7 linked regions of the Homo sapiens genome follow. The protein of the gene in region 2 purifies or fractionates together with the protein of the main gene of each other region. This does not show direct contact. Each region holds a gene or a part of one and is shown on either strand. Other genes may lie near its edges. The genes, in order: KIF3C, AKAP12, ACBD3, KIF3B, ARMC6, DYNLRB1 and ARFGEF1.

Region 1 (3,500 bases), on a different chromosome or scaffold from region 2:
TGTGACCTGGATCCAAACCCAGCCTGGAGTATGGGTCACTTGTTATCTCAAGGCTTCTTTCAAGGGTCTGATCATACAGGACTCAGCTGATCACACAGCCCCACAAATCTCAGAGTGTCTAGCATGGGGCTGGTGTCCTTGGGGACATGTGGATGGAACCAGATCAGCTTTGTGGAAGTCTCTGGAGACTGGAGATAGCCCTATTTGAAGACTAACATTAAGATCAGGACAGTGGAATGATACACAGTATTTCACTCTCTCCACTACAGCACTTCCTCTCCCAATCGAGGTTTCTTCTTCCCAAAAACCCTGTCGTCCACAGCTTTACCCACTCTACCTCCCCACCTCTTTCTCTTTCCCCTCTTTATTGTCCCCCTCTATTTCTCTCTTGCTTTTCTCCTATTATCTCTCTCTTTCTCTCTTCTCTTCTTCCCATTGTCTTTGACTCTTCTCTAACTGGTTATGACAGAGAGCTGAAAAACATCCTCTATTATATTATTGTTTGAATTCATACTACATTAAAATTTAAATCTTCTGGTCTTAATTTTCAGAAAGCTAAATATTTTCTCTTTTACTGTTTAAAAAATAACATTTTAAACAATTAAGGGCCTTTAAGAGAAAGGGATTCTGAAGATCATCTGGTTCAACGGCTTTCCTGATATATCAAGCCCTTAGTGCACCACTGACATTCGGTCTCTCCTTGAACACTTCCAGGGATGGGAGCCCATGACTTTACTGGGGCATGATTGATGTGTAAAAAGCTGTACATATTTAGGTCAGGCACGGTGGCTCATGCCTGTAATCCCAGCACTTTGGGAGGCTGAGGTGGGTGCATCACCTGAGGTCAGGAGCTCAAGACCAGCCCGGACAACATGGTGAAACCCCATCTCTACTAAAAATACAAAACTTAGCCAGGTGTGGTGGCGTGCACCTGTAATCCCAGCTACTTAAGAGGCTGAGGCAGGAGAATTGCTTGAACCCGGGAAGCGGAGGTTGCAGTGAGCTAAGATCGTCCCACTGTACTCCAGCCTGGGCAACAGAGTGAGACTCTGTCTCAAAAAAAAAAAAAAAAAAGCTGTACATATTTAATGTATACAACTCAATGAATTTGGGGACAGGTATACAACCGTGAAATCATCACCACCATCAAGGCCACCTATTTCTTCTTGAAACAGCCCAATTTTAACTGTTAAAGAGATCTTTAAATTAAGCTTAACCTGCTTCCATAATTCGTACTCCCTGGTTACCAGCAACAATCCAGGACACAAAAACAGTGCAATCAGCAGTAGGATAGGGAGGCCCATGTTGATTTCAAAGGAAGGGGTAGAACAGCTGGTGCAGGGTTTTCCTATTGGAGTAACCGGCTTGGGCAGGCAAGATAGAAGAGATGCATTGCAGTCAGACTCTGAAGCGCCTTGAATGCCAAACTAAAATGTGATGTGTTTAATATATCAGGAAGGTGGCCAAGTGAAAACATCTATTAGGTGGTTTGACATAGCAATAATAATTATTTACTTAACACTTGTGTGCCAGAAACTGTGCAAAGTGCTTTATGTTCGTTCTCTTGTTTAATTCTCTTTTTTTCTTTTTTGAGACGGAGTCTCACTCTGTCACCAGGCTGGAGTGCAGTGGTGTGATCTCGGCTCACTGCAACCTCTGCCTCCCGGGTTCAAGTGATTCTCCTGCGTCAGCCTCCTGAGCAGCTGGGACTACAGACGCGCGCCACCAAGCCCACCTAATTTTTGTATTTTTAGTAGAGACGGGGTTTCACCATGTTGTCCAGGCTGGTCTCAGTCTCCTGACCTCGTGATCCACCCACCTCGGCCTCCCAAAGTGCTGGGATTACAGGCATGAGCCACCGCGCCCGGCCTTTTTCTTTTTTTCCTAGAGACAAGGTCTTGCTATATTGCCCAGACTGGTCTTGAATTCCTGGGCTCAAGTGATCCTCCTGCTTCTGTCTCCCAAAGTGCTGGGATTACAGGCATGAGCCACTGCGCCTGGCCCTTGTTTAATTATTTCAATAGCACTGTAACAAAGATACTATTACTATCCCATTTTATAGCTAAGGAAACTGGTACTCAGAGGCCTCAGAACTGGTAAGTCACTAAATCCAGACCTGGCTGACTCTGATGCCCATGCCCTGAACATAGCACTTCATATAATAAGGCCAGCAGAGAGACCAGAGAGGAGACCTCGATCTGGGAGTCATTTACACAGAGGGATAGAGTGTCAAAAATAGAGGGGCAGGGCTGGGCATGGTGACTCATGCCTATAATCCCAGCACTTTGAGAGGCTGAGGCAGGTGGATCACCTGAGGTCAGGAGTTTGAGACCAGCCTGACCAACATGGAGAAACCCCATCTGTACTAAAAATATAAAATTAGCTGGGTGTGGTGGTGCATGCCTGTAATCCCAGCTACTCGGGAGGCTGAGGAAGGAGAATCGCTTGAACCTGGGAGGCAGAGGTTGCGGTGAGCCAAGATCACACCATTCCACTCCAGCCTGGGCAACAAAAGTGAAACTCCATCTCAAAAAAAAAAAAAATGAGACCCAATCTCCATTTCCAGTCTCGGGCTTCTTTCTAAACTCCACTGGCCCAACTCCAGCTGCCCACTGGACTCTGTCACCTCAAATGTGACACATCTACAGCAGCTCCTATCAGTTTTCTTTTCTTTCCTTTTTAAGACAGGGTTCCTCTCTGTCACACAGGCTGGAGTGCAATGGTGCAATCAAGGCTCACTGCAGCCTCAACCTCCTGGGCTCAAGCGATCCTCCCACCTCAGTCTCCTGCGTAGCTGGGACTACAGGTACACACCACCATGCCTGGCTAATTTTTTGTATTTTTTGTCAAGACAGGGTTTCTCCATGTTGTCCAGGCTGGTCTGGAACTCCTGGGCTCAAGGAATCCACCCACCTTGGCTTCCCAAATTGCTGGGATTACAGGTGTGAGCCACTCCTACTCCTATAATTTGCCCAGCCTACTCCTATAATTTTTCAGCACCTCCTCAGGAACCAGTTCCCAACCTGATATTCCTAATTTTTTAAGCCTAAAAGAGCATCAGATTTTGTGTCAAATCCAGCTGGGTTTACATAGTTTTACTATACCAACCATGTGGCCTTGGGAGAGTTATTTCACCTCAATGGAGCTCTGTTTTCTCATCTATAAAACAAGAACAATAAGGCCAGGTGCAGTGGCTCAGGCCTGTAATCCCAGCACTTTGGGAGGCTGAGGCGGGTGGATCATGAGGTCAGGAGATCCAGACCATCTTGGCTAACGTGGTGAAACCCCATCTCTACTAAAAATACAAAAAGTAAGCCGGGCGTGGTGGTGGGCGCCTGTAGTCCCAGCTACTCGGGAGGCTGAGGCAGTAGAATGGCGTGAACTCAGAAGGTGGAGCTTGCAGTGAGCCGAGATCACGCCACTGCACTCCAGCCTGGGCGACAGAGTGAGACTCCGCCTCAAAAAAAAAACAAGAACAATAACAGCACCTTTCTTGGAGG
Region 2 (3,500 bases):
GAAGGTGGCGTACCTGACATAGAAGAGCAAGAGAGGCGGACTCAAGAGGTCCTCCAGGCAGTGGCAGAAAAAGTGAAAGAGGAATCCCAGCTGCCTGGCACCGGTGGGCCAGAAGATGTGCTTCAGCCTGTGCAGAGAGCAGAGGCAGAAAGACCAGAAGAGCAGGCTGAAGCGTCGGGTCTGAAGAAAGAGACGGATGTAGTGTTGAAAGTAGATGCTCAGGAGGCAAAAACTGAGCCTTTTACACAAGGGAAGGTGGTGGGGCAGACCACCCCAGAAAGCTTTGAAAAAGCTCCTCAAGTCACAGAGAGCATAGAGTCCAGTGAGCTTGTAACCACTTGTCAAGCCGAAACCTTAGCTGGGGTAAAATCACAGGAGATGGTGATGGAACAGGCTATCCCCCCTGACTCGGTGGAAACCCCTACAGACAGTGAGACTGATGGAAGCACCCCCGTAGCCGACTTTGACGCACCAGGCACAACCCAGAAAGACGAGATTGTGGAAATCCATGAGGAGAATGAGGTCGCATCTGGTACCCAGTCAGGGGGCACAGAAGCAGAGGCAGTTCCTGCACAGAAAGAGAGGCCTCCAGCACCTTCCAGTTTTGTGTTCCAGGAAGAAACTAAAGAACAATCAAAGATGGAAGACACTCTAGAGCATACAGATAAAGAGGTGTCAGTGGAAACTGTATCCATTCTGTCAAAGACTGAGGGGACTCAAGAGGCTGACCAGTATGCTGATGAGAAAACCAAAGACGTACCATTTTTCGAAGGACTTGAGGGGTCTATAGACACAGGCATAACAGTCAGTCGGGAAAAGGTCACTGAAGTTGCCCTTAAAGGTGAAGGGACAGAAGAAGCTGAATGTAAAAAGGATGATGCTCTTGAACTGCAGAGTCACGCTAAGTCTCCTCCATCCCCCGTGGAGAGAGAGATGGTAGTTCAAGTCGAAAGGGAGAAAACAGAAGCAGAGCCAACCCATGTGAATGAAGAGAAGCTTGAGCACGAAACAGCTGTTACCGTATCTGAAGAGGTCAGTAAGCAGCTCCTCCAGACAGTGAATGTGCCCATCATAGATGGGGCAAAGGAAGTCAGCAGTTTGGAAGGAAGCCCTCCTCCCTGCCTAGGTCAAGAGGAGGCAGTATGCACCAAAATTCAAGTTCAGAGCTCTGAGGCATCATTCACTCTAACAGCGGCTGCAGAGGAGGAAAAGGTCTTAGGAGAAACTGCCAACATTTTAGAAACAGGTGAAACGTTGGAGCCTGCAGGTGCACATTTAGTTCTGGAAGAGAAATCCTCTGAAAAAAATGAAGACTTTGCCGCTCATCCAGGGGAAGATGCTGTGCCCACAGGGCCCGACTGTCAGGCAAAATCGACACCAGTGATAGTATCTGCTACTACCAAGAAAGGCTTAAGTTCCGACCTGGAAGGAGAGAAAACCACATCACTGAAGTGGAAGTCAGATGAAGTCGATGAGCAGGTTGCTTGCCAGGAGGTCAAAGTGAGTGTAGCAATTGAGGATTTAGAGCCTGAAAATGGGATTTTGGAACTTGAGACCAAAAGCAGTAAACTTGTCCAAAACATCATCCAGACAGCCGTTGACCAGTTTGTACGTACAGAAGAAACAGCCACCGAAATGTTGACGTCTGAGTTACAGACACAAGCTCACGTGATAAAAGCTGACAGCCAGGACGCTGGACAGGAAACGGAGAAAGAAGGAGAGGAACCTCAGGCCTCTGCACAGGATGAAACACCAATTACTTCAGCCAAAGAGGAGTCAGAGTCAACCGCAGTGGGACAAGCACATTCTGATATTTCCAAAGACATGAGTGAAGCCTCAGAAAAGACCATGACTGTTGAGGTAGAAGGTTCCACTGTAAATGATCAGCAGCTGGAAGAGGTCGTCCTCCCATCTGAGGAAGAGGGAGGTGGAGCTGGAACAAAGTCTGTGCCAGAAGATGATGGTCATGCCTTGTTAGCAGAAAGAATAGAGAAGTCACTAGTTGAACCGAAAGAAGATGAAAAAGGTGATGATGTTGATGACCCTGAAAACCAGAACTCAGCCCTGGCTGATACTGATGCCTCAGGAGGCTTAACCAAAGAGTCCCCAGATACAAATGGACCAAAACAAAAAGAGAAGGAGGATGCCCAGGAAGTAGAATTGCAGGAAGGAAAAGTGCACAGTGAATCAGATAAAGCGATCACACCCCAAGCACAGGAGGAGTTACAGAAACAAGAGAGAGAATCTGCAAAGTCAGAACTTACAGAATCTTAAAACATCATGCAGGTAAGCTTCCTTGTCTTCTAAGATAATTTTTCTCTTTTATGCCAATAGATGGCAAATTTGTTACATAAGGAATCGGGAGCAAATAATTAATGCCTTCGTGTAGAACCTTCAGTTGAGGAAAATAACTATCAACTAGATTCAAAGATCTAGGATAGTTTCATGGTTTTTGGTGATTGAAATGCCATTTAGTCTTATCGATGTTATGAAAAGAACGACTTCGTTTTACCTCCTAATGTGACTGCTTTAGAATAAAATAAAACGGCATGTGTGTGTGCACATGTGCGTGTTTGACCCAAAGGCATAAGAAATACATTGTGTTCACTCAACTATCTTGTTGAGTTTTTTTAAAAATAACTAGTGCTCCAATGGCTGGGCGTGGTGCCTCACGACTCCGTCTCAAAAAAAAAAAACAAACAAAAAAAACTAGTGCCCCCAAATGGGCTAATATTAAACTGCCTGAAATATAGCTGATGATAGCTCTTTCAGAAAAAATGGATTTTTTTTCCCCTAGCAGTAGTAACAAGTATTTTTAAAAATTTTCCAGCGCATATAATGACCGACCCTCACTGTGTTAGTTACTTGCAGTTGCTAGTAACTCCCCATCTTTGTGGTTTTTGTTTTGTTTTGTTTTGTTTTCTTGAGACGGAGTCTCGCTCTGTCATCCAGGCTGGAATGCAGTGGCGCGATCTCGGCTCACTGCAAGCTCCGCCTCCCAGGTTCACGCCATTCTCCTGCCTCAGCCTCCCGAGTAGCTGGGACTACAGGTGCCCGCCACCATACCCAGCTAATTTTTTGTATTTTTAGTAGAGATGGGTTTTCACCGTGTTAGCCAGGAGGTCTCGATCTCCTGACCTCGTGATCCGCCCGCCTTGGCCTCCCAAAGTGCTGGGATTACAGGTGTGAGCCACCACGCCCAGCCCTATCTTTGTTTTGTTTTTTGAGAGAGCCTTGCTGTGTCACCCAGGCTGGAATGCCGTGGTGCAATCATGGATTGCTGCAACCTTGACTTCCTGGGCTAAAGCAAATCGCCTGCCTCTGCCTCTGTCTCCTGAATAGCTGCTGGGACCACAGGCACATGTCATTACTCCGAGCTAATTGTTAAATTTTTTTGCAGACAGGGGTCTTGCTATGTTGCCCAGGCTGGTCTCAAACTCCTGGCCTCAAGAAATCCTCCTGCCTCACCCTCCCAAAGTGCTAGGATTACAGTCGTGAGC
Region 3 (2,282 bases), on a different chromosome or scaffold from region 2:
TCTGTCTCCCCAGATTTCAAAAGAAAAAAATTATGCCAGTCACCCTGCCTATCAGTGGGGTCATCTGGATGTAGCAACCTCATTCTGGGACTCCACATCACACTGATCGCGCACTTCCCCACAAGTGCTCTGCAATCATCCACCCTGAGCAAGCGAGGGCTCTGCCTCTGGAGATCCATTAAAGTGTGTGGGGTCCACATATTTAATGGAACACACTACATACATGGTAGTGTAGAGAAACAACTTTATAACCTAGTCATTTTCAATAAGAAAAATCAGTGCTAGCCTTTGCATTTAAAAGTGTGGAAAAATTTAAATCTATTTTAACTCACTAAGGTAATTAATAGTAAAACTAAATAATTGGCCAGAAAGAGTTGTTTTTCAACTAGAGCCTTTTAAAACAAAAAAGATGTTTGAAACATTTCTTTTTCTCCTACCCAAATGTTGAAATACTGTACTAATGCTTCAGAGAGTAACTATATTAATGAAACATCAACAAGTTACAGATAAACATTTTAATTGATTAAATATATTACTTTCAAGATCTTTTTGAAATCGCACTTGTACTGTACTAATCAACAGCCAAAGGCAATAAGAAAGTTTAAAACCAAAAATATTCTGACATGAACACATGACAGGAACCGCTGCTATGTAAAGTAACATACACTGCTCCCAAGAACAATGATATTTTTAGGAGATAATTCATCTTAACATGTGCAAGGACAAATTTGTAATCAAAGGCTGGAAGAAATATATATTAGTGCCTGCTTTTTAAAAGTTTATTTTACATTTTAAATACAGTATTTTTCTCATAAAAAAAAAATCCAGGAAGTGCCTAACTCCATGGTTTCTATACCATATGTACATGAAAGCTGACAGAGAGCCTGACAAATGTTCTGGATGTAACAGTATGAACACCTATGAGCTGGGACTACTTCTGAATCAAAATTAAAAAACACAAATTAAGCACTGCTTAAGAAAAAAAAAATCCAGTTTCTGAACAACCAAAAGAGAACAGAGTTAGATATGTACAAAACCAGGTATTAAAAAACAGAAAGAAATACAGCACACAAAAAACTCAAACAACCCATATGTAGTGAACTGTATATACTGCAGTTAATGAAAACCCTCCTACAAGAAGTGATTTAGGATTTGAAATTTTAAAAATCTAAGTACTTCAGTAACAACATACAATAACAACATTAAGTGTATATTGCCATCTTTGTCATTTTCTATCTATACCACTCTCCCTTCTGAAAACAAGAATCACTAGCCAATCACTTATACAAATTTGAGGCAATTAATCCATATTTGTTTTCAGTAAGGAAAAAAAGATGTACCTCTTCCCGTCAATAAAGAAATAACACAAATTAAAGCTATAAAATTTAAGCATGGGCATATGTATTTCCAATTCTCCTTAATAAGTAATTCCAAACTGGAATAATGTGGGGTTTGTGACTAAGTAGTAACAAATTAAAAGAAAATAGACTGTCTCTGGCAGTGATTTCCATATTAGTGCAATGTTACTTCCCATATGCTGAATTATATTTAAATGATTTTATGTATTTTAATTCAGTAGGTGCCAATTTGAGTTTATAAAATCCTTAATTTTATTCTTTGTGCAGAAAAGTTTCAATTTGAGATACTCTATGAAGCCAAAACAAAACAAAACAAAACAAAAAACCTGTATTTTGCTACTAGTAGTATGAATACCAAATAAAGATACAAGGATTCAAAGTTTGTGGAAGTTCCTGAAGAAAAATCTCTGAGGTGTTCTACGTATCTTGATACTTCAATTATCAATTAGTTTTGAACATTCTAGTTTAAGATTATCTCAGAAAATAATTCTCTGTAATATAACTCTGAACTAAACAGCTGCACCCAAAGCAGAAACAATCTGGGTCATTCTGAACGAGATCAAACTGAGGCCATTTCTTTTTCTATTATAATCTGTGAGGTGTTGAGTTTTTAAGTTTTAAAAATGGCCTTTAATCAAAGCCAGCTGCACCTGATATAGACTTGTTAACTTATGGATTTCAAATTAGAGGACACTGTAACTACGGGCTCTCATAAGACACATGGAGCAGGCAGCAAGGGGCTAACCATCAGCCGGGTAAGGTCAACGTTGGGGTGTTTTATTTTGGAGACTTTAAATATTTAACATGTAGCTCATGTAACTTCAGCATCCACTAGTGACTCTGCTGGTCAGCACCCAAGGGCTGGATGAGTCTGAGGAATCTCCTTTAACCCCAAAGTATGAATGCTAAAGAGTCTCAAGGAAA
Region 4 (3,500 bases), on a different chromosome or scaffold from region 2:
CATCTCTACAAAAAACACAAAAATTAGCCAAGTAGGGTGGCATGCCGCTATAGTCCCAGCTATTCCAGAGGTTGAGGTGGGAGGATCGCTTGAGCCCAGGAGGTGGAGGTTGCAGTGTGCTGAGACTGCACCTCTGCACACCAGCCTGGGTGGCAGAACGAGACTGTCTCAAAGAAAAAAAAAAAAAAGAAGATGTGGAGAAATTGGTGGTAGAAATGTAAAATAGTGCAGCCACTGTGGCAAACAGTTTGGCATTCTCTCAAAAAGTTAAACACTGAGTTACCATATGACCCAGCAATTCCACTCCTATGAATGTATCCCAGAGAAATGAAAACACACATCCATACAAAACCTTATACATGAATGCTTATAGAAGTATTATCCATAATAGCCAAAGACTAGAAATAATCGGAATGTATATAAACTGAAAAATAAATAAATATGTGTCCTATTCATACAGTGCAATATTATTCAGTCATAATAAAGAACAATTGATGTTGGGACTACCAGATATCTGTTGATCCATGCTACGGCATGGACGATCCTTGAAAGCGTCATGCTAAGCAAAAGACACCAGGCCAAAAAGGCCACACAGTGTGTGATTCCATTTATATGAGATGGCCAGAATAGGCAAAGCCATAGAGACAGGAAGCAGATTAGTGATTACTTCGGGTTGGGAAAGGGGGTAATGAGGAGTGACTACTAACTGGTAGAGTTTCTTTTAGAGGAGAGTAATAAAAATGTTCTAAAATTAGATTGTAGTGGTGGTTTTATAGCCCTATGCATATATATGCTTTTAAAAAAACACTGATTTGTATACTTTATCATTTTTTAATTTTTTTTTTTTTGAGACAAGAATCTCGCTGTGTCACCCAGGCTTGAGTAAAGTGGTGTGATCTCAGCTCACTGCAACCTCCGCCTCCCAGGTTCAAGAGATTCTCCTGCCTCAGCCTCCTGAGTAACTGGGATTACAGGTACACGCCATCACACCCAGCTAATTTTTGGATTTTTAGTAGAGACGGGGTTTCACCATGTTGGCCAGGCTGGTCTTGAACTCCTGGCCTCAGGTGATCCACCTGCCTCGGCCTCCCAAATGCTGGGATTACAGGCATGAGCCACCATGCCCGGACTGATTTGTACACTTTAAATATGTGAATTGTATGGTATGTGAAGTATGTCTCAATTAAGCTTTTTTAAAAACAGTATTGTGGGCTGGGTGTGGTGGCTCACACCTATAATCCCAGCACTTTGGGAGGCTGAAACAGGAGGATTGCTTGAGCCTAGGAGTTTGAGATCAGCTTAGGTAACATAGAGAGACTCTATCTCTATAAAATTTTTTTTAAAAATTAGCTGGGCATAGTGGCACACACCTGTAGTTCCAGCTACCCGGGAGGCTAAGGTGGGAGGACTGTTTGAGCCCACAAGTTACAGGCTGCTGTGAACTGTGATTGTGCCACTGCACTCCAGCCTGGGTGATAGAGCAAAACTCTGTCTCAAAAAAAAAAAAAACCACTGTGATCATATATATATATATATAAGTATGTAGGAGTGAGATAACATGAGGTTAAGATTTGCTTTAAAATATTTTTGTGAAAGATAGATGGCAAAAGCTTGTTAATCCTTGAATCTGGGTGATGGGTACTTGGGTATTTATTATACCATTCAGAAAATTGTCACAATAAAAAGTCAAGTTAATAAAATATTCCCTCTTATCATCAGACAGATGTAAGACCAGAATCTTTAAAAGCTTCGAGAAGGTAGGGTTAGAAGGGAACTTGGAGATCACCTGATGAAGTCATTCAGTTAACAGATGGGATCCAGAGATGGAAAGTGACTTTTTCAGGAATGAACAGAACATGGGGTGGCAGGAGATGAGCTGGAGAAGGACCTGTCCTCAGGGCTATTTCTTTTTTTGTGTTTTTTTCTCACTCCGTCGCCCAGGCTGGAGTGCAGTGGCACGATATCAACTCACCGCAATCTCCACTTCCCGGGTTCAAGCGATTCTCCTATCTCAGCCTCCCAAGTAGCTAGGACTACAGGCATGCACCACCACGCCCAGCTAATTTTTGTATTTCTTAGTAGAGACGGGGTTTCACCATGTTGGTCAGGCTGGTCTCGAACTCCTGACATCAGGTGATCTGCCCGCCTCCGCTTCCCAAAACACTGGGATTACAGGCGTAGGCCACCAAGCCCAGCCAGGGCTGTTTCTAACTAAACAAACGAGATCAATGACTCAGCAAGTGGCTTGGGGGCACTATGGAAGGCCTGGCACTTACTTGAGTTTCAGCTCCCTGGTGAGCTCATTCTGAGTCTGCTCTAGCTCTTGGCGCTCCTTGATGTGTTCTTCTTGGAGGTCATGGATCTCAGCCTTCACTGCCTGAAGCTTGGAGAAGAGCTGGAATGAGGGGAGAGGCAGGTGAGGAGGGTGTCTGTCCAAAGGGTAGAGTTCTCCCTTTCCCCAAGTCTCAAGGCAACTCCATCTGGCCTCATTCCTTTCATACCTTTTTGAGTTTTTTGGTCTTGATGTCCACCTCTTGCTGCAATGAGCTGTATGTCTCTTTAAGTTCCAAGGTCTCCTCATCTCGACTTTCCATCTGTTGCTGGATTTCTCTTTCTCGACGTTTCTGAGCAACATGACAAAATTCATCAGCTTGCCCTAGAGACTGTGTCTATGCTGGGTTCCCCAAGCTAGGATCAGAGTCTCCAGCTAGGATGAGGCAGACACACCTTGCTCTCATTCTCTTTGAAGAGAGTCTAATATGAGACGTTTGCTCTGCAGCATAAACACACCTTACCTCACCCATTCTCCCTGAAAAAGAATGAAAAGTTACCTGCTCTGCAATTTCCTGTCGTTTCTGCTCCAGGATTTTCTGCTGTTCATTCGTATGATCTACTATATTTTTTCCTCCAACAAGCAACTTACTCTCCATGGCCTGAGTGAGAAACAAAGTAGAATCCATCTCATGAACGGTTTCTCTCAGAACATAATTCCTCACAGGGGAGCCTGTGAAAGATAAAGAGCTCAGGACTGAGCCAAAAGGGACAAACTCTGGGAAAAAATACACTGTGCTCAGCTGTGCCCATCCATCACTGGTGAGGGACTGGGGCAGCTTCACTAGAGGCTTCTTGGTAACACTGAAGATACAGTTTCTTCAGATACATGAATTTCAGCTTTAACAAATTTTTTTTTTTTGCTTGTTTCTACAAAGTATTAACCCCACTTAGAACATATTAAGCAGACCCTTTATGTTAGGTCCTGGGGATGCAATGTGAGTGTGAATCACAAAGCTCCGAGTCCACTGAGGAAAACAGACAAGCAAGCAGGCTTTAACCATATGGCGCCAGATGCCATCATGAGGAAAGGACACAGTAATTCATGGGAGAGGCACACTGATGGGATAGAATTCAGACTCTGTGGGGATTTTTTAAAATTTTTTAAAGACAGGGTCTAGTTCTGTCACCCAAGCTGGAATGCGGTGGCACGATCACAGCTCACTGCA
Region 5 (3,500 bases), on a different chromosome or scaffold from region 2:
CTGTCCACAGCTCTCGGAGCTCGACATGACAACCCAGGTCCCGCAGGGCGGCCTTGGCCACGTCCTCACAGTCACGGTGGGCAGATCGGGCCTGCATGATGAGTGCCTCAGCCCCCAGGTCCAGGATGGGCTTCGAGAAGGCCTGGCCGTGGGCCACCAGGTTTCGGATCAGCATGCAAGCCTGTTTCTGTAGGAGAGAGCAGCTGTGAGCTGCCAGATGGGGCTTTGGGGTGGGGTCCACTCTGACCTCAGGGTCTTCATCATAACAAGATGGAGGTGATCATAACCACAGCTGACATCCAGCAGCTGCCTATACTGTATCAAGCTAGACCCATCTCTCTACTTTACCCTCTTGGCAGCCCCACAAGGCATGGCTAACTCCCAGGCAAGGAAACAGGCTCAGGGAAGCTCCAGGATCTATCCTATGGCTTTGGAACTCTCAGCCTCAGAGTTGGTGAGCCTGAGGTCCCCCGAGGCTGGCACAGAGCCAAGGAAGGGGCCCTAGGGCAAGGGGGCAGTGAGGCCACGGGAAGACAGTGGTTGTGCACAGGCACCTGTCAATTACATCCCTACCCATTCAGTGGACATTTGTGCCCTGTGCACCTGCTGTGGGTGGGCGCGGGGCACTGCCTGGAAGCTTCCCAGGGTGGCTCCCACCACCAGCAGGACAGCAGGTGGGAAGCGCATGCAGAGTGGGGAACTGCTGGCCAGGGTGGCCAGAAGTGGACAAGGGGTCAGACCAGGTAAGGGTCAGTGTCCCAGAGTAAGAGCCAGCGAGAGCAAAGGCCCCCTGTGGGTCCCAGCCTGGTGTGTCCAAGAATCCTATGCTGGGAGTGAGGAGGCGAGGAGGGCCCCGGGGGCTGCACGGAGGAGTCTGGGTTCAGCCAGGGAGGTGTGGACAGGGTGTCCCACACTCAGAACTCAGACCAGCAGCCCAAGGAGGGGGCAGAAACCTTTCTGAAACCCCAGGCAGATCCCCATCCACGCTTCCCCAACTTCTTTCTCCCCAGATCTCTCTATAGGGACTTTTAAAAAAGGAGATTAAGGGTGCGGTGGCTCACACCTGTAATCCCAGCACTTTGGGAGGTGGAGGTGGGTGGATCACCTGAAGTCAGGAGTTCGAGACCAGCCTGGCTAACATGGCAAAACCTTGTCTCTACTAAAAATACAAAAATTAGCTGGGCGTGGTGGCCCATGCCTGTGATCCCAGCTACTCGGGAGACTGAGACAGGAGAATCGCTTGAACCCAGGAGGCAGAGGTTGCAGTGAGCTGAGATGGCGCCACTGCACTCCAGCCTGGGCGACAGAGTGAGACTGTCTCAAAAAAAAAAAAAAAAAACCCACAGAAGGAGATTACGTGTTATAGCTTTCTTTCCAGGGTTTCACCAGAAAGCCCCTCCAAACTACCCCCTCCCCAAAAAAGGAGAGTAAATGCAGAAAAAACAAAGGCAGAGAAGGAGGCAAATGAAGGCAGAATTCAGCACATTTTGCAAGATGAGAAAGAAGTTGGCCCTATGGGGCTCGGCTGTGGGAGGGACAGGGACAGGGATAGGGATAGGGACTGAGCCTTTGCCCCATCACCCACCCGCACACCGCACCTGCTCCCATGCCCTCTCTGCACCTACCTGCACATCCCACACCAGCCTGCCTGCCCCCATCCCCTGCCCTGCCCACCTGCACGCCGGCCTTCTGCGGGTGTGCCTTCATGGCCTGCAGTGCTGCCACAGCCCCGCCACCCTCCACGATGATGCGGCTGTTGTCGGGCTTACGCAGGGCCAGGAAGCACAGGGCCGCGCAGCTCTGCTCACACACCTGCAGGGGCCAGTCACAGAAAGGCTGAGATGCAGCAGATAGACCCCCCACAACATCCTGCCATGGCCACCAACCCCTGGTGAACACCCTGCGGCCTCCCCTCCGTGGGTCTCTGGCAACTCCTGTGTAATAATGGCAGGGTGACAAAAATATCAGCTCAGCTCTTAGGGGTGACAAGGGCAATAGGCCTGGTCAGATCTTTGCAGGGTGCTGGTGGTAACTCCAGGACACCCAAAGTCATGCATACGCAGGTCAGCATTTGAGAGCCAATGCCCACGACCCTCACCAGCCCTGCCCTGGCCCTGCAGGGGAATAGAGCTTCATGCAGATACAGAAACTGAACTGGGACTCCAGCCACCACCCTGCTACTGTGTGTGCCCCCCGAGGTGGGTACCTGGGGGCTGGTCAGATGCTGGGTCATAGCAGCCACGATGGACTCCGTCCCACCAGCACGGACAATAGCATCTTTCACGTCGTCGTTGCCTGCGATGGCTCGCAGGGTGCTCAGCACTTGCTTCACGAGCTCCTGCACAAGGGAAAGGCCCGCTCACCTCCAGCCAGGCCGCTGGTTGTGGGAGAGGGCTCTGAGGGAGAATGTGGGGCTGTTTTGCTGTTTGACCAACAGGTATGGTGTGACTGCAGGGTGTGACTAACGAGAAGGGGTGGCAGATGCCTGTGGCTCAGGCTGCCTGTGTCCAAACGGTACCATCCAGGTGACTTGATCCCCTACCCCGACAGGGGCAGCGGGGGCATGTGACTCAGGCCGGCCTTCAGAGCACAGGGTCCCCCTGTCCACGGCCACAGACCCAGGGTAGGCGCTAACTGCCCTGCACTGAGGACAGTGGATGAGGTGCTACTGGGACTGCTGATCCCCCGATGGAGAACCTGAGGACCCTGCCCCCAACTGCCCAGGAGTACAGGGCAAAATGTATCCCTTCATTTGCTGAAGTTGGTTCCCATTCAGCTCCTGGCCACTTGCACAGAAAGAGGCTGGCTGACGTCAACAGCTGGGCTTGGGGGCGCAGGACCGTGGCACCCCTGGGGGCTTTCCTGCAGCTGCAGCTGGATAGGGAGGCACCTGTTGATTGGCTCCCTGCTGTGGATGGGCACATGGAGAAGGGCTCAATAATCGGCTGCTAAACGGAGTAATGAGTAGGGACACTGCTCTATTCTGTAGCTAGGGAAACTGAGGCAGAGGTGCGGGAACTAACCCAAGTATCCCAGCCTTGGCCGACACACCCCAACCCTATGCTTCCTACCATCCTTTTCCTGGTGCAAAAGGACAATAAGGGAGAGCAGGTGGGTTTGTTTCCCCCCCGACCTTTGGTTCCTGCCCTTGGGTCCGTGAAAAGAAAAACTGCACTTTGGTTCCGACACTGGCAGGCAGGGCTGGCTTGTTCTGACTATAGCTCGTCCGGTTGACTGGGACCCAGAAGGACAGCACGCAATGGGCCAGGGGGACTTCATACCTGAACGCCGCTCTGGTCCCTCATCTGGTGGTCATTGCAGTCGGCTAGCAGGGACACCAGAATGCTCAGGCCCCCGAGGTCGACGACCTCCTGGCAGAACTCGTTGCGAATGGCCAGGCGGGACAGGGTTCCACAGAGCTCGCTCAGGATGCCAGGGTTATCCAGGAACGCTGCAGGGAGAAAGGGAGACGGTGGTGGGGGCGGGAAGAACCAGCCGCA
Region 6 (4,116 bases), on a different chromosome or scaffold from region 2:
TAACATACATGGTGGTTTACGCCCATAATCCCAGCATTTTTGGAGGCGGAGGTGGGCGGATCACCTGAGGTCATGAGTTTGAGACCAGCCTGGTCAACATGGTGAAACCCTGTCTCTACTAAAAATAGAAAAAAAACCCTGTCTCTACCAAAAATAGAAAAATTAGCCAGGCATGGTGGCATGCTCCTGCAGTCCCAGCTACTCCGGAGGCTGAGGCAGGAGAATCACTCGAACCCGGGAGGCAGAGGTTGCAGTGAGCTCAGATCACACCACTGCACTCCAGCCTGGGCGAAAGGGCAAGACTCTGTTTCAAAAGAAAAAAAAAAAAAGTTAAACTAGGCATCTAAATTTGCATTGCTTTTATGAGTATAACCACGGAGTAGCATAATACAGGTTCTAGAAAGCTACAGTTTAAGTAAGAAAAAGGGGGGCCATATAAGTGCTTGTATAGATGCATAAGAAACTAACAGCTGGGTGTGGTGGCTCACGCCTGTAATCCTAACACTTTGGGAGGCCAACGTGGGTGAATCACTTGAGCCCAGGAGTTCAAGACCAGCCTGGGCAACATGGCAAAACCCCAACTCTACAAAAAAAAAATACAAAAAAATTAGCAGGGTGTGGTGGCGTGCACCAGTAGTCCCAGATACTTGGGGAATTAAGGCAGGAGGATCACTTGAGCCCAGGAGGGTCAAGTTTGCAAGAAAAAAAAAAAAAGAAACTAACAATGGTTGTTTCTAAAGGAGGAGAGACTGAGACTGGGGGTTAGGAGAGTGGGAATTTTATTTTTCACTTAGATCCTTTTACATCATTTATTTTTTTACTGTGTGCAAGTATTACCTGTAAACAATCCTAAAATTCGTATGGAACCACAAAAGACTCAGAAAAGCCAAAAGAAGCCTGGACGAAAAGAACAAAGCTTGAGGTATCACACTACCTGATTTCAAAATATACCAGAAAGGTATAGTAACCAAAAGAGCATGGTATTGGTATAAAACACAGACCAATGGAATAGAATAGAGGACCCAGAAATAAATCCACTTATTTACGGCCAACTGATTTTCGACAAAGGCATCGAAAAAACAAAACAAAACAAAAACAACAACAAAAACGAAAAAAAAAACCTACCATAAATCAGCAATACCACTACTGGGTATTTATTCAAAGGAACGGAAATTAGTACATCAAAGGCATCCCTACATCCTCATGTTCATATTGCAGCACTATTCATAATAGCTAAATTATGGAATTAGCGTCCATCAATAGGTAAATGGATAAAGAAAATGTGGGCCAGGCGTGGTGGCTCACGCCTGTAATCCCAGCACTTTGGGAGGCTGAGGCGAGCAGATCACGAGGTCAGGAGATCGAGACCACCGTGTTGAGGCGGACTAACACGGTGAAACCCCGTCTCTACTAAAAATACAAAAAATTAGCTGGGCGTGGTGGTGGGCGCCTGTAGTCCCAGCTACTCGGGAGGCTGAGGCGGGAGAATCACTTGAACCTGGGAGGCGGAGGTGGCAGTGAACTAAGATGGTGCCACTGCACTCCAGCCTGAGCGACAGAGACACACTCCATCTCAAAAAAAAAAAAAAAAAAAGAAATAATGAATGTTTAAGGTGATGGATATTCTATAATAAATATAGCCTGATTTGATCATTACACATCATATGCATGTATCAAAATATTACATGTATATCTACAACATAAATGTGTACAACTATTATATATCAATTTTTTTTACAGCTTAAGAAGTGATGTGAAAAATGAAGTTATACATATTTGAAGCATTATTACATGTTTGTAATGATGTGGAGATATTGTGGTGTAATAATGAAAAACACAGAACCCACAATTGCACATTCAATAGGGGCTAAACTGTATAAACCAAAAACAAGCAAAAAAGACTAGAAGTCATATGACTACTGTAAGTGGTTGCCTCTAGGTGATGACACGGTTTCTTTTTTCAATTTTTTTATTACAAGCTCTAGATTTCTAAATAAGATTTTTGAAAAAGTAATATATTCACATGGCTTAAAATTTGAAACTTTTTCAAATTTTGCCCAAGCTGTGAGGATTACAAACACAAAACCTGTAACGGCGTTGAGAACCCACAGCTGCAGCAAGCAAGGTAGAAAGCAAGCTTTGGGATCCCCAAGAGCAGACCCCGCCCGTTCCTGACTCTGGCACCCAGTCCCAGCGGCTAGAAAGAACCACGCCGACAGAGTGGCGGCCGTCAAGCTTCTAGGGTTCAAATCCATCTCCACTATTTCCTGGGGCAAAGCACTTGGCTTCTCGGGGCGCTGAATAACAGATATGTATAACAAAATGGGACTAAAGATTGTATCTACCTCACAGAGCTGGGAGGAGGCGGAGGAAATACAAGATACATAAAGTGCTTGGCAGAGCCTGCCACAAACTGAGCTCCCGGGAAACGTTGCCAGGGTTGCCATCGCGCACCAAGGCCCCAAAACTCTAGGCTGCAGGGCCGCCGCCCACCCCTCGCCCATCATCTCTTCCTGGCCGAGGCTGGGCTCCCGCTTCCGGTCAAGGGGCAGCGGGATCCGGCGGCCCCGCCTCGGTCAGGCTTTAGAGGCCTCCGCCGCCGGGTTCCACCCTCAAGTCGGCTGGGGCCCGGGCCCGGCCACGCCCAGCCACCACCGATTCCCTGTCCGGAGCTCTGAGATCCCCTCATCCTCGGAAGACTGAAGGCCTGGCGTGGGGTGGTGGGCGGCCGCCAGCCACAAGACCCCGGCGCACGCTCACCATTTCCGACCGATCCGGTAGCCCCGCGTAGCGAACACTTAGCGAGTCCTGTGCCTTTCTGCGCCTGCGCAAAGGTTTCTGTCAAAACGGACAGCTCTAGCTGCCTATCAGGAGCCAGCGTGAGGCGGGGGCGGGCGAGCCGATCTTGGCTCCGCCAGGATTCTTGGAAAATCTGCTTTCCACTGTGGCAAAGCGAAAAGCTAAGGAGCAGTGCGCTAAGCTGTGGAAAATTCCCAACTCCAGCCGTGCAGAAAAGATGCTGGTTCTGGCTGGACGCGGTGGCTTACGCCTGTAATTCCAGCACTTTGGGAGGCCGAGTCGGAAGGATTGCTTGAGCCCAAGAGTTCGAGACCAGCCTGGGCAACATGGAGAGACCCCTTCTCTACTAAAAAATAAACAAAATTAGCCGGGCGTGGTGGCGCGCTCGTGTAGTTCCAGTTACTCCAGAGGCTGAGGTAGGAGGATCGCCTGACCAGGAGTTCGAGGCTGCAGTGAGCCGAGATTGCGCCACTGCACCCCAGCCTGGGCGACAGAGCAAGAGACCCTGACTAAAACAAAACAAAACAAAAACCATGCTGGTTCTCGGTATCGGAAGAGGCTTTCAGTGCTGGTTCTCGGTATCGGAAGAGGCTTTCAGCTCTCAATGGAGGTCTAAGCTGGTTCTGGAGTCCCTGAGTGGAGCGTGGTGGGAGGGTATGAAGGCAAGTGGGACGGTTGCTGAGACCCGCTTTGCGCCCAGACTGAGCCAGAGAGAGGCCCAGGGCCAAAATGCGCTTCGGGATCGGGCAGGCCTGGGGTGGGGCTGGAGTCAGGTACCTCGAGTCTCCGGGTAAGATGCCGTGCAAGCTCGGAGATGAATTGGTTAGGGCTGGCCTGGGAGTCTTTAGAATCCGAGCTCAGCCCCGCCTCGCGTTACCTAGCAGAAGGCACTTCACATCTGTGTGTTCTGTCTTGTTCTCACCTCTGAAAGGGGGACTCTTCCCAGAGCCCTATGTTGTCCTGTTCCGGCAGGCCGCAAACGTTTCTGGGTCCTCTAGGAGTAAATAACTTCTGTTAAAACATGCTGCCGTTTAGTGAACCCTGTGCCACATTACTGTGCTGAACACGCACATAACGTTATCTCCGGTAGCTTCAGGGAAGTATCGGTAACCTCGATACTTTATAAATGCTGTTTCTCCCAGGCACTGTAGCTTGCTGGATTCAACGATGATCTAACTCCAAAGTTTCATTCCACAGTAGCTGCTCTTCAGTGAGGAAGGATTTGGTTCTCCTTCCAGGAGTGTCTGCATGTTAAGAGGATTGACTTTACTGCGAAGAAACCTAGCAGACACCACCGTAACCAGATCAAAGTTAGTA
Region 7 (3,500 bases), on a different chromosome or scaffold from region 2:
GCCCTATATGGGTTTTTGTTGTTGCTTTTTTTTTTCTTTCTTTTTTTTTTGAGATGGAGTCTTGCTCTGTCGCCCAGGCTGGAGTGCAGTGGCATGATCTCTGCTCACTGCAAGCTCCACCTCCCAGGTTCAAGCCATTTTCCTGCCTCAGCCTCCCAAGTAGCTGGGACTACAGGTGCCCACCACCACGCCCGGCTAATTTTTGGTATTTTTAGTAGAGACGGGGTTTCACTGTGTTAGCCAGGATGGTCTCGATCTCCTTTCCTCGTGATCCGCCCACCTTGGCCTCCCAAAGTGCTGGGATTACAGGCGTGAGCCACCATGCATGCCCAGCCTACAGGTTTTATCTTTTATGCCATGTTTTTACTGTACCTTTTCCATGCATATATATATATATACACATATATATATATATATATATATACACACACATATATATATATGTATATGTATGTATGTATGTATGTATGTATGTATGTATGTATGTATTTTTTTTTTTTTTGAGACAGAGTCTTATACTGTCACCCTGGCTGGAGTGCAGTGGTGCCATCTTGGCTCACTGCAACCTCCGCCTCCTGGGTTCAAACAATTCTCATGCCTCACCTTCCCAAGTAGCTGGGATTACAGGTGTGCACCACCACACCCGGCTAATTTTTGTATTTGTATTTTTTAATTTTTATTTTTATTTTGAGACAGAGTCTCACTCTGTTGCCTGGGCTGGAGTAGAGTGGCACTCTCAGCTCACTGCAACCTCTACCTCCCAGGTTCAAGCGATTCTCCTGCCTCAGCCTCCTAAGTAGCTGCGATTACAGGTGCGCACCACCACGCCTCGCTAATTTTTGTATTTTTAGTAGAGAAGGGGTTTCACCACGTTGTCCAGGATGGTCTTGAACTCCTGACCTCAGATGATCCGCCCACCTGGGCCTCCCAAAGTGCTGGGATTATAGGTATGGCCACCATGCCTGGCCAAATTTTTGTATTTTTAGTAGAGATGGGGTTTCACCAGGTTGGCCAGGCTGGTCTCAAACTCCTGACATCAGGTGATCTGCCCACCTTGGCCTCCCAAAATGCTGAGATTACAGGCGTGAGCCACTGCACCCAGCCTGTTTAGATATGTTTAGATACACAAACACCACCGTATTAACAGCTGCCTACAGTACAGTAACATGCTGTGCAGGTTGTACCCAAGGAGCAATAGGCTATGCCATCTAGATTTGTGTAAGTACATGCTATGATGTTCACACAATGCTGAAATTGCCTACTAATGCATTGCAGAGAACATACTCCTGTCATTAAATGATGCCTGACTATATTTGGGACTTTAATTTTCGGTATTTATCCCCAAATCTAGAGAATTTTGGAAGAATTAAGTAAGAATGCACACAAGAAATTCTTTCTACACAGTGTTATACCAATTATAGTGCTGCACTATTTGTTGTTGTTAAAGACAGAGAGTCTCAATTTGTTGCCTAGGCTGGAGTACAGTGGTGTGATCAGGGCTCACCATAGCCCCAACCTCCTGTGCTTAGGCAATCCCGCCTCAGCCTCATGAGCAGCAGGAACTAGAGGCATGACCACCATGCCTAGTTAACTTTTTGTTCAAAGAGATGGGGTCTCACTATGTTGCCTAGGTTGGTTTCAAACAATCCTCCCACCTTGACATCCCAAAGTGCTGGGATTACAGATGTGAGCCATGGCATCCGGCCCACATTTTAAGATGGAAGCTAAATAGCAACCCATACATATCCTGGGATGAGGTAGGAAAATCAAAGGCCATCACTGAACAAAGTTTACTGATCTTTTCTCTCTCCTTTACTAACTAGAACACACACAACCTCTTTAACAACTGGAATCTACCCATAATCTGAACATGGAATATGGTGAGAAATAAGGTATCACAGTGCCAAGCAACAGAAGGCTAAGAAAGCAGGTGGATCCTCCATCAAACAGACTTCTACAAATAAATAAAGGGTGAGGGGAGAGGGTGCTGAGTTTTCATGACCTGCTAGTCATGATATGTCAGCCGCTCCACTGAGGCAGGTGGACAGCTGAAATGGGGCTATCTTGAATTTTAACAAGTTCCTAACAGGTCCACTGATAAACAATCCACCATGTCTAAATATAAAATAAAATGTTTTTCTATAGTGCTCTCATAATTAAAATCCCTAAGGGTTAAGTCCTATTTTGATTATCTATTTCATACGAATTTCTGTTGTAACAAATAATACTATAAAAATGAAAAATTTCTTGGGATATAAGTCAAATTTAACCTTGGTGGGGGATGGGGGTGGTTCTGGCATAAGGTGAGAAAAGAGAGATTCATTCTGTGCTACCTTTAGAAATTCAAAAAATTCGATAAAGTTACACATCCAAATAACAGAAGATTCTTCCAAATAAGATGGAAAGATTCCTAAAAGATTTTGTTTACCATAAAATTGAACTCACGGTGGGTTTAGAGGTTGACAGATATTAGGACACACAAGCTGGCCATTTCAATGTGGCAAAGTACAGGGTAAAAAAACTACTATGGGAATCATGTGAGCCGTGACCTAAGAACAGTGTGTTAGCATTTGGCCAGTTACATAATACCCATAATAGTTCCTTTACAGATTGACTATATGTTCATAATGATCTTTTATTGGCAATATACTTTTGAAAGAGTTCTATTTGAATAGCTCTATATTATTCCAAACTATGTTACTGACCAGGTTACAAAAAGAAATGGTTCTTCACCTAAAACCCAGCAAGGATGTGCAGTTAAAAATTCTTCTATCATTCATCAGGAAATAAAATAAATTTTGCCACTAACTTCAACTTATTATTGGAAACAAATATATGAAAAGACGGAATGTTTAAAGGATTAAATTAACTTAGAAGCTAAAATCAAATGGAGGCTATAATCAAATATTTTAAAAATAATGTAGTATTTCCATTTTTATTTTGCTCTAGTTAATATTTTTAAATCATATTAACATATTTTAAAATATACCTAATAATTAATATATTTGACAAAACACTTGATTTTATGGTCTTTAACTGTGAGATTGTGTTTATAAAGAAGAGTTAATTTGATTAAAGTCAAAATAAATCCAAAATTTTAATTACAAATATAGATTGTTACCTGGTTCTTACATCTAATTTGCATCTATTGATGATACAGGATAACTCAAAGAGAATTGGGAACCATCCTCTCACCCACACCCTGTCTTCAGGTGCTACGTTCATATCATCGCTTGTGTATTCCTTGAAAGCCTTCAAGAAAAAAGGTAGGGTTATTAAAGGCAAAACATAACACCCATACATTCAGTATACTAACTTCTCAAAAAATAATTTAAATGCTTCACAAATAACCAGTGAGCAATTTAATAAAAAATAATTTATAAAAAATGGACACTATAACTGCCTACAATTTTAGTATATGTGCCACTGAAATAGGCAAAACATAACTGCCTATAAAGAGCTCTGGACTAGAATCCAAAAGTTAGCTTCACTTTCAACTG

The links.
Region 1: the proteins of AKAP12 (region 2) and KIF3C purify together in Homo sapiens (affinity purification with mass spectrometry, with the first as the bait; one large-scale study listed by BioGRID). This does not show direct contact.
Region 3: the proteins of AKAP12 (region 2) and ACBD3 fractionate together in Homo sapiens (co-fractionation; one large-scale study listed by BioGRID). This does not show direct contact.
Region 4: the proteins of AKAP12 (region 2) and KIF3B purify together in Homo sapiens (affinity purification with mass spectrometry, with the first as the bait; one large-scale study listed by BioGRID). This does not show direct contact.
Region 5: the proteins of AKAP12 (region 2) and ARMC6 purify together in Homo sapiens (co-immunoprecipitation; one large-scale study listed by IntAct). This does not show direct contact.
Region 6: the proteins of AKAP12 (region 2) and DYNLRB1 fractionate together in Homo sapiens (co-fractionation; one large-scale study listed by BioGRID). This does not show direct contact.
Region 7: the proteins of AKAP12 (region 2) and ARFGEF1 fractionate together in Homo sapiens (co-fractionation; one large-scale study listed by BioGRID). This does not show direct contact.

What each region holds. Positions count from the first base shown.
Region 1 is NC_000002.12:25,972,498-25,975,997, forward strand, and holds part of KIF3C (kinesin-like protein KIF3C), read right to left. Parts: intron 1-3,500.
Region 2 is NC_000006.12:151,351,467-151,354,966, forward strand, and holds part of AKAP12 (A-kinase anchor protein 12), read left to right. Parts: coding exon 1-2,274; 3' UTR 2,275-2,286; intron 2,287-3,500. UniProt on the Homo sapiens protein: Anchoring protein that mediates the subcellular compartmentation of protein kinase A (PKA) and protein kinase C (PKC).
Region 3 is NC_000001.11:226,144,179-226,146,460, forward strand, and holds the end of ACBD3 (Golgi resident protein GCP60), read right to left. Parts: 3' UTR 501-2,282; downstream 1-500. UniProt on the Homo sapiens protein: Involved in the maintenance of Golgi structure by interacting with giantin, affecting protein transport between the endoplasmic reticulum and Golgi. Involved in hormone-induced steroid biosynthesis in testicular Leydig cells.
Region 4 is NC_000020.11:32,315,651-32,319,150, reverse strand, and holds part of KIF3B (kinesin-like protein KIF3B), read right to left. Parts: intron 2,934-3,500; coding exon 2,832-2,933; intron 2,625-2,831; coding exon 2,502-2,624; intron 2,396-2,501; coding exon 2,277-2,395; intron 1-2,276. UniProt on the Homo sapiens protein: Microtubule-based molecular motor that transport intracellular cargos, such as vesicles, organelles and protein complexes. Uses ATP hydrolysis to generate force to bind and move along the microtubule. Plays a role in cilia formation.
Region 5 is NC_000019.10:19,054,103-19,057,602, reverse strand, and holds part of ARMC6 (armadillo repeat-containing protein 6), read right to left. Parts: intron 3,452-3,500; coding exon 3,282-3,451; intron 2,909-3,281; coding exon of another isoform or gene 2,813-2,908; exon of another isoform or gene 2,339-2,812; coding exon 2,207-2,338; intron 1,813-2,206; coding exon 1,675-1,812; intron 211-1,674; coding exon of another isoform or gene 188-210; coding exon 1-187.
Region 6 is NC_000020.11:34,515,106-34,519,221, reverse strand, and holds the start of DYNLRB1 (dynein light chain roadblock-type 1), read right to left. Parts: upstream 2,801-4,116; 5' UTR 2,764-2,800; coding exon 2,761-2,763; intron 1-2,760. UniProt on the Homo sapiens protein: Acts as one of several non-catalytic accessory components of the cytoplasmic dynein 1 complex that are thought to be involved in linking dynein to cargos and to adapter proteins that regulate dynein function.
Region 7 is NC_000008.11:67,221,782-67,225,281, forward strand, and holds part of ARFGEF1 (brefeldin A-inhibited guanine nucleotide-exchange protein 1), read right to left. Parts: intron 3,253-3,500; coding exon 3,122-3,252; exon of another isoform or gene 2,908-3,121; intron 1-2,907. UniProt on the Homo sapiens protein: Promotes guanine-nucleotide exchange on ARF1 and ARF3. Promotes the activation of ARF1/ARF3 through replacement of GDP with GTP. Involved in vesicular trafficking.